Homo sapiens: one gene and its partners. The protein of the gene in region 1 purifies or fractionates together with the protein of each later gene. This does not show direct contact. Each region holds a gene or a part of one and is shown on either strand. Other genes may lie near its edges. The genes, in order: ILKAP, MYO1B and PAK2.

Region 1 (3,656 bases):
CTACAGGTGCGCACCACCACAGCCAGCTAATTTTTGTATGTTTTGTAGAGACAAGGCTTTGCCATGTTGCCCAGGCTGCTCTCGAACTCCTGGGGCTCAAGTGTTCTGCCCACCTTGGCCCTCCCAGAGTGCTGGGATTACAGTGGTAAGCCACTGTGCCTGGCTGAGCCATTAACAGTTGTTTAAAAGTGGAAAAACGCAGTCTTAAATGAATTATGGGAAAGCACTGAGTGTCCAAAGGGAGAATACTACACTGCTTATATCACATCAAATGTATTAATATTTTGTTTAGATCTTTTTATTTTTGTTTTAAACGTTGCATCTAATGTTCCCACCCCTAAACCTCTTAAATGTTTATAATCTAGAAAAATACATAGAATGCACTAAATATTTCAGGTATTTTGCTAAATTAGTAGTTTTCATCCAAGCCCTTAAAAGTTTTAATTGCTGAATGAATCAAGTTTTTTAAAGGAGAGATGTATATATTTTACCTAAAAAAAAGTGTTTGTTCATATCAGGCAGAAATGGAACTTTCCTATGTCATACCCATAAAAGTGCCGACCTGATGTCTTTAAGATTGGCAGCTTATATTGACAATCCATGTATGTCAGTTGAAGGTGTCATGGTTTAAAATTGCTTCGCCAGTAACTTGATTTCACTTTTATAGGGTGGTTCTTTTACTTATTTGGTTGCTACACTAGTACTTTAAAAATTGATGGTCAGTTGTTGAGGAGGAAATAAAATATTTGATGGCCACACCATCTTAAAAATACTTTAAAAAAATTGGAGGCTGGGCTCGATGGCGCATACTTGTAATCCCAGCGCTTTGGGGGAACAAGGCAGGAGGATGGCTTGAGGCCAGGAATTTGAGAAGAGCCTGGCACAACTTCGTGAGACCCCTGTCTCTACGATTAAAAAAAAAAAAGAAGAATATTTGAACATAAAGGTTAAGGTATTAGAGGAAAACAGATTGTAAAACTACAGGGTTGAACAAGAAAAAAGTCATAAAAAAGTGAATTTGACTATGTAAAAATTTAAAATTTCTGCAGGACAAATGATACTATAAAGGCAAAAGACAAACCGAGAAAATAATTGCAATATACATTACTAAGGGTATAAGAAAGGCTCACAGAATTGATGGGAAAAAATAAAACCCACTAGAAAAATGGTCAAAGGATGTATCCTCCCAGTTCAGAGGTAAGGAATACAAATGGCCCATCAACAGAAAGTTGCTGAGGAACTATTTACCTTTTCACCCATCAGATTAGCAACAGTTGGTAACATTGGTGAATGTGTAGCGAAGTAGACTTTCTCATAAAGTGTTTTGGGAGTGAAAATTACAACTTTTTGGGGAACAGATTTTGGCTTCTATCAGATTTAAACTAATATCCTTTGACGAGCAGTCTAGCAGATTAAGCAGGAATACATGTATCAGATTGTTGATTGTGGCGTCACTTATCATATGAAGAACTGGGAAAAGCTTGAACCCATCAGTAAGGATCTGGTCGAATGAGTGGAGATGCTTCCCATGTGTGGCTGTTGGAGAGGATGAATTAGACTTGGGTGTGTTGGCCTGGAGCATGCCTTGATGGGTTATGTGAACACTATATGTGGAGTATTGTGTAGAGTATGACTCTGTCTTCTACAAATTAAAATGCATGAGTCCATGTGCATGAGCATTAAGGAAAGTGGAAAGGATACACTAAACTCATACTGTGGTTGGGGGGTGTGGCGGAACCTGTCCCCCCTTTTTTCTGATAATACCTCTGTGGTGTTTGGAAAACACCTGGATTTATTTTATAGTTGAAAAAATTGAGGTATAAAAAACAATTTAGCCAAAATATTTTAACATCCTTTTTTAACTTTATTGGATACAGCAACCTTTAACCTGAATATGATCAACCCAAGGGTATTTTTCTCAGCATAGTATATAACTTCCAGTAGACTTAGCTCCAGAATGTAGATAACTGAGGAAAAAAAAAAGTTCTAGATGAGATTAACTATGATTAATGGACATTTTTAGTCTTGTATTCTTATTAGGGTTCTAATATTTTTAAGATTAGGGGAGGGGCCTCTTCCAGATTTTTAGGTCAGGGTCACACTTTGTCCAATGATTGCAGCCCCCAATGCTTTGAATTTCAGTTTATTCAAAATAGAATGTAAGGGCCTGGAGCAGTGGGTCACATCTGTAATCCCAGCACTTTGGGATGCTGAGGCAGGAAGATTGCTTGAGTACAGTAGTTCGTGACCAACCTGGGCAACATAGTGAGACCCCGTCTCTACAAAAAGTTAAAAAATTAGCTGGGCATGGTGGTGTATGCCTGTAGTTTCAGCTACTCGGGAATCTGACGAGGGAGGATTGCTTGAGCCCAGAAGGTTGGGGCTGCAGTGAGCTGTGATCACACCACTGCACTCCAACCTGGCTCACAGAGCGAGACTCTTGTCTCAATTTAAAAAAAAAAAAATCTAAGGTTTTGACTAATCAGTAGTTTCCTTATGTATCTATGACCTATAGATTTTTTTTTAAAGAATCCACATACAGACTTCTAAGTTAGATTCTTTTGATGATGCAAAAATTATTTCCAGAGATTTTATAAAATCTCAGGATTATCATCATAGGATTGTTGTAAGGGTAAAATGAGTTGATGTTTATGAAGTTTCTGGAAGGGTGCCCATGTATGGAGGCAGCATAGTACCTCACTAAAAGCACGGACTGCATGGCTTTGAATCCCCACTCCACTCCTTACTGGCTCTGTGATCTTGAACAGGTAATTGACCTCAGTGCCTCAGTTTTTTCATCGGTAAATAATAATAGTACCTATCTCATAAGAATTAAATGAGAAGATGTGTGGAGCTCTTAGAATAGTGCCTGACAGGCAGGCAGTATTATCATTTTTAGAAGCCATTCCCAGTTGTGGCCAGCAAAATGTAGGATGGTCTCATTGTGTTTAATTGAAATACCTCTCATAGTATTCCAGAGTGAGAAAGAAGGTGATAGGCAGTTCTCTGGGGATGGGGCTCAGTTTGGGGCACCATCTGACTGAATTGTAGCCAGAGGAGAGGCGGCCAGGCTAGTATTAATACTAAGCTGTAAGTTGCATTGTGAGGAATGCTTACAAGAACTGAAAATATATTTATTACCTGGGTAAAAGAAGACTTCCTCCCTTGTACAGTGGCAGTGGAAAGACCTGATTTAGATGGGCAAGTTAATTCAAAAGTTAAAATATGACCTGGTACAAGCGGAAGGGTTGTTTGCTCTTCATGTTGGGCTGTTACCTGTAAATGTCCCCTCCCTTGTCCTAAGACATCTGGCTCTGTGACACCACTGAATGCAGCGTGATTGTCTGGAACATCTCATGTGGTTTTTGAGTCTGTCCGGAGAACGGGCGTTGTGATTGTTAGACCCAATGTTTGGGCAAAAGTGACCTACTTCGGGATATTAGGAATTCTTGTAAGTGGATTAATACATTGAGTAATGGTTATCCTAAATACTTTTTTTGGGTGCTGGGGACAGAGTCTGGTTTTGTCCCCCAGGCTGGAGTGCAGTGGCGCTATCTCAGCTCACCGCAACCTCCGCCTCCCAGGTTCAAGCAGTTTTCCTGCTTCAGCCTCCCAAGTAGCTGGGGCTACAGGCACCCGCCACCATGCCTAGCTAA
Region 2 (3,656 bases), about 47 Mb from region 1:
TAATTTTCACTGGTTACATGAAAGCATTTTCACATTGCAACCACAACAAAAAGCTCCCCCAAAATACACAAAGAATCTTAATTGCAAGATTCCTGCTGGTCCCACTTAACATTTTCCAGTGTACACCTTCTCTCTCCATCATTGCTGCTTTGCTTTACATTTTATATTAGATCCTGAATTGCTATTTGTGATGTTCAGATTGCAAATATACTAGCTTCCTAACTGATCATTTTTTCCCTTAAAAGTACTTCAGAGTGATTGGTCACTGTTTTATTCATTTTAGACCCACAGTCTAAATGCTTTAAGGAAAAGCTTAATTTTCATAGACATTGGGCCTATGCCAATTTGCATGGCTTGTTATTTTTGTGATCCTCATATTATCTGCTTCTAGTCATAATCGGTAGATCACAGTTTTGAGCTACCCCTGATATAGTGAGCCATCTATGAAAAAGTTCTCGCTTGCCTGAAATTTTCAAAGTGTTGAGAGCTATTCATAAAAATGTATGAACTGCCACGTTGGTCAGGTTCAGGGCTTATTTGCCGTAGTACTCTGCAGGTATTCTGTGACATTCAGGAAGGAAAATAGAGTTAGACTCCTGATGTCAGCTTTGTAAAGGTTCATAGATGTCTCTTGAGTATCTGTAATTACATGATCTCTTAAAAACCTCTTATCCATGTACTGAAATTCATCTTGAATTGTTTATTTTTATCCTGCATTCACACAATTCACACTTTAAAGATAGAACTTGATTATATTGGTATTTTTATTTCAAATTTTCAATTTTTGGAATGGCAGAATGTTGCTATTGAAAAGTGTCTTAAAGGTCACCACTGTAACCCCTTCATTGTGCTTGAGACCTGCTCAGCTCCTAAATTTAACAGGGGACGGATCTGAGAAACTGACTCCAAGTTGTAACCTCTTGCTTAGTTTTCTTTCTAGGGAGATATCCGTCTCTCCAAACCTGTCGAAATCTAAATTTATTACCTCTTACCTAATACTTGGTCCCCTGTGGACTTCACTTCACTGTTTGTGCTAATAGCCTTTTCATCACCATCTTGACTTTGGATTCTAGAGCATCACCTACTTCCCCATTTTCTGTGACCCTTACATTCCTCCTGTCAGTCACTATGTCTGATTTATTGTTCTCCCCTATCTTTTGCCCTTTGCAAATCCTCAAGCCCTCATTCTGGTTCAGACCTTTAAAAGGCTGAGTTACTGGAGTATAGTGTTACCCAAAGTGAGTTGTTCCATAAAAAATTAGTAAGTTGGAAAAAAAAACAAAAAACAAAAAAATACCCTACCCATAAAGTTGGTAAATGTTCCTGTAAAAAGGGTTCCTTGGCCAGGTACATGTTAGAATAGCTGGTTAAGTTTCTTTGCAGAAAGACTTCTCCTGGCCTTCATTTGTGACTGTGTACTGTGAATTCCCAAGAGAAAGATACAGTATTCACTTGTCCCAACTTATGTCACCATTGTACCACGTTTTGGGGGGATCATTTCGTAGATAACACTGCTATAGTCACTTCACTGTAGCTTTTTAGGTTCTGTCACTGCCTGGCTTCCTGTGGGAATGTGCATTCCATGTGAGCCGTACTTGGTTCACTCTCAACTGTGTCTTGTGCTTTTACCTTGTTGTTCTGGATCGTTCCTTCCCCCCAGAAGCCCCTCTCCCCTATCACACTGGCACATCTTTCAGTGCCCAGCTTTGTGCCTGTCTTCTCTGTCAGTTTTCCCAGACTCAGGTTGCGCTTGTTCTTCTGAACTTAACTGTTTCACAACTTAAAAAAAAAAAAGAAAATATTTGAAGCACAATGAAATGTTGAAAGTAACCTTACACATTCATATGGTTAAATTATTGGAATTCCCACAAAATTCCATTTTCCATATTTGCGTCAGTTGACACATCACATGCACATCACATTCTCCTCTGTTTCCCCCCACAGGTTAGCTTGCACATATGTTCAACAAGCTTGTTGCTTGTGGGGCTTTTTTCTTTAATTTTGTGTTACTGAAATTGTGTTGCATTTAAATAGAAATTCAGGGAGAATTGACATCTTTATGGTTTAATGGCTTCCCATCCACAAACCTCATAAGCTTCTTTAATAGTTCTTTTATGTCCTTCAATGAAATTTTTATCATTTTGTATGTAAAACTCTTTCATACCGCTTGTTAGATTTGTGCCAAGGTGCTTCATGGTTTCTGTGGTCATTTTGAATGAATGATTTAGTACATTTCTGGTTAGTGTTGCTGGTGTACAAGAAAGGGATTGATTTTGTATTTGTTTATAAATAGTTCTTGATTGATCAAGTTCACATCTAAACCTGTGTTTGCTGTGGGAGCCTGCAGTTGGGTGGCTTTTCCAATACAGCATAAAATAACTTAGCCTTTATTGAAAATGTCATAATTCACTTTATTTTTATTTATTTATTTATTTTTTGAGACAGAGTTTCGCTCTTGCTGCCCAGGCTGGAGTGCAGTGGCATAATCTTGGCTCACTGCAACCTCCACCTCCCAGGTTCAAGCAATTCTCCTGCCTCAGCCTCCCGAGTAGCTGGGATTACAGGCATGCAACCACCACGCCTGGCTAATTTTGTATTTTTGGCAGAGATGGGGTTTCTCCATGTTGAGACTGATCTCGAACTCCTGACCTCAGGTGATCCACCCACCTTGGCCTCCCAAAGTGCTAGGATTACAGGCGTGAGCCACCGCGCCCGGCCTCTTTTTTTTTTTTAGAGACAAGTCTGGCTCTGTTGCATAGGCTGGAATGCAATGGCATGATCGTAGCTCGGTGCAGCCTCATACTCCTGGACTCAAATGAGCCTCCCACCTCAGCTTCCCAAGTAACTAGGACTATTGGTGTGCGCCTCCATGCCCAACTAATTTTTAAATTTTTTGTAGAGGTGATGTCTCATTGGTCCCAGGCTCCTGGCCTCAATCAGTTCTCCTGCCTTGGTTTCCCAAGTGCTGGGATTACAGGTGTAAGTCACCACACCTGACCTAATTTAAAAATTATATGCAGTACTTTTAGAAGTAAGGAAGGGGTGACTTTTAGTTATTTAATGTGTTCATTTATTAACTCATCAAATGTTTAGGTGCCTAGTATGTTTCAGGCACCGTACTAGGTACTGTGTTTTTGTTTTTGTTTTTGTTTTAGAGACAGGGTCTCTCTTTGTTGCTCAGGCCGGAGTACAGTGGTGTGAACATAGCTCACTGCAGGATCGAACTCCTGGGCACAAGTGATCCTCCTGTCTCCACCTCCCAAGCAGCTAGGACTACAGGCAGCATCTCCACACCCCACTCATTTTTTACATTTTTTTGTGGAGACGGGGTCTTTCTATGTTGCCCAGGCTGGTCTTGAACTCCTGGCCTCAAGTGATCCTCCCTCCTCAGCCTCTTGAAGTGTTAGGATTACAGGTATGAGGCACTACACCCATCCTGTACTGAATCTTTAATGTTGAACAAAACAGATGTGGTTTCTGCTCTCATGAATGTGAAGGGGAAGAGACATTGTGGAAATGGACACGGATAAATATGTATTCGTGGATTAGCATCGATACTGTGAAGGAAAAGGACAGGGGGCTGTGAGAAACAGAAAGGCGGAGAGAGGGAAATTTAGATTGGGGTACAAGGAGAGCCTGACTTAGGAAATAAACAT
Region 3 (3,301 bases), on another chromosome or scaffold:
TTGAGGTCAGGAGTTCAAGACCAGCCTGACCAATATGATGAAACCCCACCTCTACTAAAAATACAAAGATTAGCAGGTCATGGTGGTATGCATCTGTAATCCCAGCTACTCGGGAGGCTGAGGCAGGAAAGTCACTTGAACCCAGGAGGCAGAGGTTGCAGTGAGCCAAGATTGCACCACTGCACTCCAGCCTGGGTGACAGAGCAAGATTCCGTCTCAACAAAAAAAAACAAAACAAAAGCAATATGTATTGCATTTATAACCGAAGAAAAACCAAAGGTGAATCTGATTTCAGAAAAGTAACTTAAGGAAATGTAACATCTAAAAATAAGAGGAAAGTATCAAATCTAAATTTAAATGGGATAATGATAACCCCAGTTTAGTATTTATGGTGATTTTCTTTAAAGAAGAAAGAATCCCTTAGACTTTATGGAGTGCTCTGTGACCGTGTTGAGCTATCTTAAGTGGATCAAAGATGTTCTTCTATTTTTAGGCCTTGTACCTAATAGCAACTAATGGAACCCCAGAACTTCAGAATCCAGAGAAACTTTCCCCAATATTTCGGGATTTCTTAAATCGATGTTTGGAAATGGATGTGGAAAAAAGGGGTTCAGCCAAAGAATTATTACAGGTAAATTTAAAAATGATTTCATTTGGGGGAATAGTTGACTTTTTTGGTAACCGACAGAAAGCTTTCCTAGGGCTAATAAGTAGATTTCACTACTCATTGATCACCAGCGGTATGGCAGCTGCTGCAATTTAGGGTTTCATCCTACCATGCTGAGCAAACTACCGCAAGGACAGAAAACCAAACACTGCATGTTCCCACTCATAGGTGGGAATTGAACAATGAGAACACCTGGACACAGGAAGGGGAACATCACACACCGGGGCCTGTTGTGGGGTGGGGGGAGTGGGGAGGGATAGCATTAGGAGATATACCTAATGTAAATGATGAGTTAACAGGTGCAGCACAGCAACATGGCACATGTGTACATATGTAACAAACCTGCACGTTGTGCGCATGTACCCTAGAACTTAAAGTATTAAAAAAAAAAGTGAGGGTTTCATCTGCTGTGAATAAAATTCTGACAAAACCGTAATGTGCAGTTTGTGCATCGTATCAATCCTCAGACCTGTTTACAGTTTGTGCATCGTATCAATCCTCAGACCTGTTTACAGTTTGTGCATCGTATCAATCCTCAGACCTGTTTACAGTTTGTGCATCGTATCAATCCTCAGACCTGTTTACAGTTTGTGCATCGTATCAATCCTCAGACCTGTTTACAGTTTGTGCATCGTATCAATCCTCAGACCTGTTTACAGTTTGTGCATCGTATCAATCCTCAGACCTGTTTACAGTTTGTGCATCGTATCACTCCTCAGACCTGTTTATTGCTGTTGTGTGTATATTTGTCAAACTAAAATGATTCTGCTTTCATTCAACTCTGAAAGTAATGCGTTGATTATGTTAGTCTTATGAAGGTATTAATATGTGTTTAGTTTATTAAATTATGATCGACAAGTAGTCTTTGGGGCTTAATTGAACAAAATTATTTTGTTTCTAACCTGATGAATGGCACTTATACATTTATTTTTCCCCTTCTTTCTGGCAGCATCCTTTCCTGAAACTGGCCAAACCGTTATCTAGCTTGACACCACTGATCATGGCAGCTAAAGAAGCAATGAAGAGTAACCGTTAACATCACTGCTGTGGCCTCATACTCTTTTTTCCATTTTCTACAAGAAGCCTTTTAGTATATGAAAATTATTACTCTTTTTGGGGTTTAAAGAAATGGTCTGCATAACCTGAATGAAAGAAGCAAATGACTATTCTCTGAAGACAACCAAGAGAAAATTGCAAAAAGACAAGTATGACTTTTATATGAACCCCTTCTTTAGGGTCCAGAAGGAATTGTGGACTGAATCACTAGCCTTAGGTCTTTCAGCAAACAGCCTATCAGGGCCATTTATCATGTGTGAGATTTGCATTTTACTTTGCTGACTTTGTTGTAATAGATCCCATTCATTGTCCCCTTTGGGGTATTTCCAATACTTGAATGGCAGATTGGAGTTTTTCAGAGTATGTGTTTCATCTGCTAGTCTTTCTCTCCTTCATAGCTTTTCTTTTCCTGGACTTGCTCCTTTTGAGTTGCTTTTGCGTTTCTCATGCCTAGGCAAGTGTAATAGAAATTATGTAGCTCCTTATGTTGGCAAAGGAGCTCTATATAGTTTCACTTTGTATAAAAGTTAGGACCAGCTGTTGTTACATGTAATATTTTAGTTCAGAACTTGACCTGAAGGAAGGGAAGAAAAGTATGTGATTTTTACCTTTTTTAACAAATGTGAAAAAGTCAGTTTTAGAAATTTCGTGGTAGTAAGTTCGGCATTTGTTACATGTATAGAGAGAAGACTAATAATCTCTATTTATAACTAAATCATTGAGATAGAAAAAGATTCCCATTGACTGTAGACTTCTTCCCATTTTGTCTTCCCTTCTGCCTGTTTCCCCTTCAGGCTTGGCTCTAGGAACCAAAGTGATTTGTTGTTGTTCCAACCTGGGCTTTGTGACTTTGGTTAGTGCCACTACCTTCTTCCCTCCTTTCCCCCTTCAATTTGGAAATAAATTTCTGTATATGTTGCAATTTTAGGTTTAGGTTTGTTCTTTTTCTTTTTCATTAATCCTCTCTCACCTCACAGATACCCCCTCCCATGGCAAATAATATAATAACCAGTGAATTTTCAGGAATTTAAAAATTAGCTTTTTTCCACTTAAAGGAGAAAAATATTTGGGACTAGCAGCAGAGGCAGTAAGAGATGTGAACCTTGGTGAGCTCTGATACAGTGAGAAGAGATTATACTCATGAAAGAGAATGTTAGTGTTACAGAGAAGCAGCCGATAGCAAATCGACTGTAGAGACTTGGCGGCGGTGGCATTGCCCCAGGTCGTCAGCAGTGTGGTATTATCTATGAGAACTTGAGCGACAGAGTATTTCTTGATGAATTTATAGATCATTTGAGATGTTGAGTTACTTTAGTTTAGTTTTGTTTTGTTTTTTCAAATAAGTAGAGACTATTGTAAAAAACGAGAAAGGAAAATGAAATGTGCGTGTTGATAGCAATAATTTGTTTCTTTTAAAGATTCTAAAAGGTCTGAGACCTGTAGCATTAATTATTTGAGTGCCCTCCCTTCTCCCCTCCCCTCCCTTTTCTCTTCTCTTTTTTCCTCTCCTCTTCTTCTCCTTTATTCATTGTTTTGCTTTTGGAGTGGGTGTTGTTCAAGTATCTGTGGTTTGGTTCT

The links.
Region 2: the proteins of ILKAP (region 1) and MYO1B purify together in Homo sapiens (affinity purification with mass spectrometry; one large-scale study listed by BioGRID and IntAct). This does not show direct contact.
Region 3: the proteins of ILKAP (region 1) and PAK2 fractionate together in Homo sapiens (co-fractionation; one large-scale study listed by BioGRID). This does not show direct contact.

The regions. Positions count from the first base shown.
Region 1 is NC_000002.12:238,197,047-238,200,702, reverse strand, and holds part of ILKAP (integrin-linked kinase-associated serine/threonine phosphatase 2C), read left to right. Parts: intron 1-3,656. UniProt on the Homo sapiens protein: Protein phosphatase that may play a role in regulation of cell cycle progression via dephosphorylation of its substrates whose appropriate phosphorylation states might be crucial for cell proliferation.
Region 2 is NC_000002.12:191,251,792-191,255,447, forward strand, and holds part of MYO1B (unconventional myosin-Ib), read left to right. Parts: intron 1-3,656. UniProt on the Homo sapiens protein: Motor protein that may participate in process critical to neuronal development and function such as cell migration, neurite outgrowth and vesicular transport.
Region 3 is NC_000003.12:196,826,703-196,830,003, forward strand, and holds part of PAK2 (serine/threonine-protein kinase PAK 2), read left to right. Parts: intron 1-493; coding exon 494-631; intron 632-1,616; coding exon 1,617-1,703; 3' UTR 1,704-3,301. UniProt on the Homo sapiens protein: Serine/threonine protein kinase that plays a role in a variety of different signaling pathways including cytoskeleton regulation, cell motility, cell cycle progression, apoptosis or proliferation.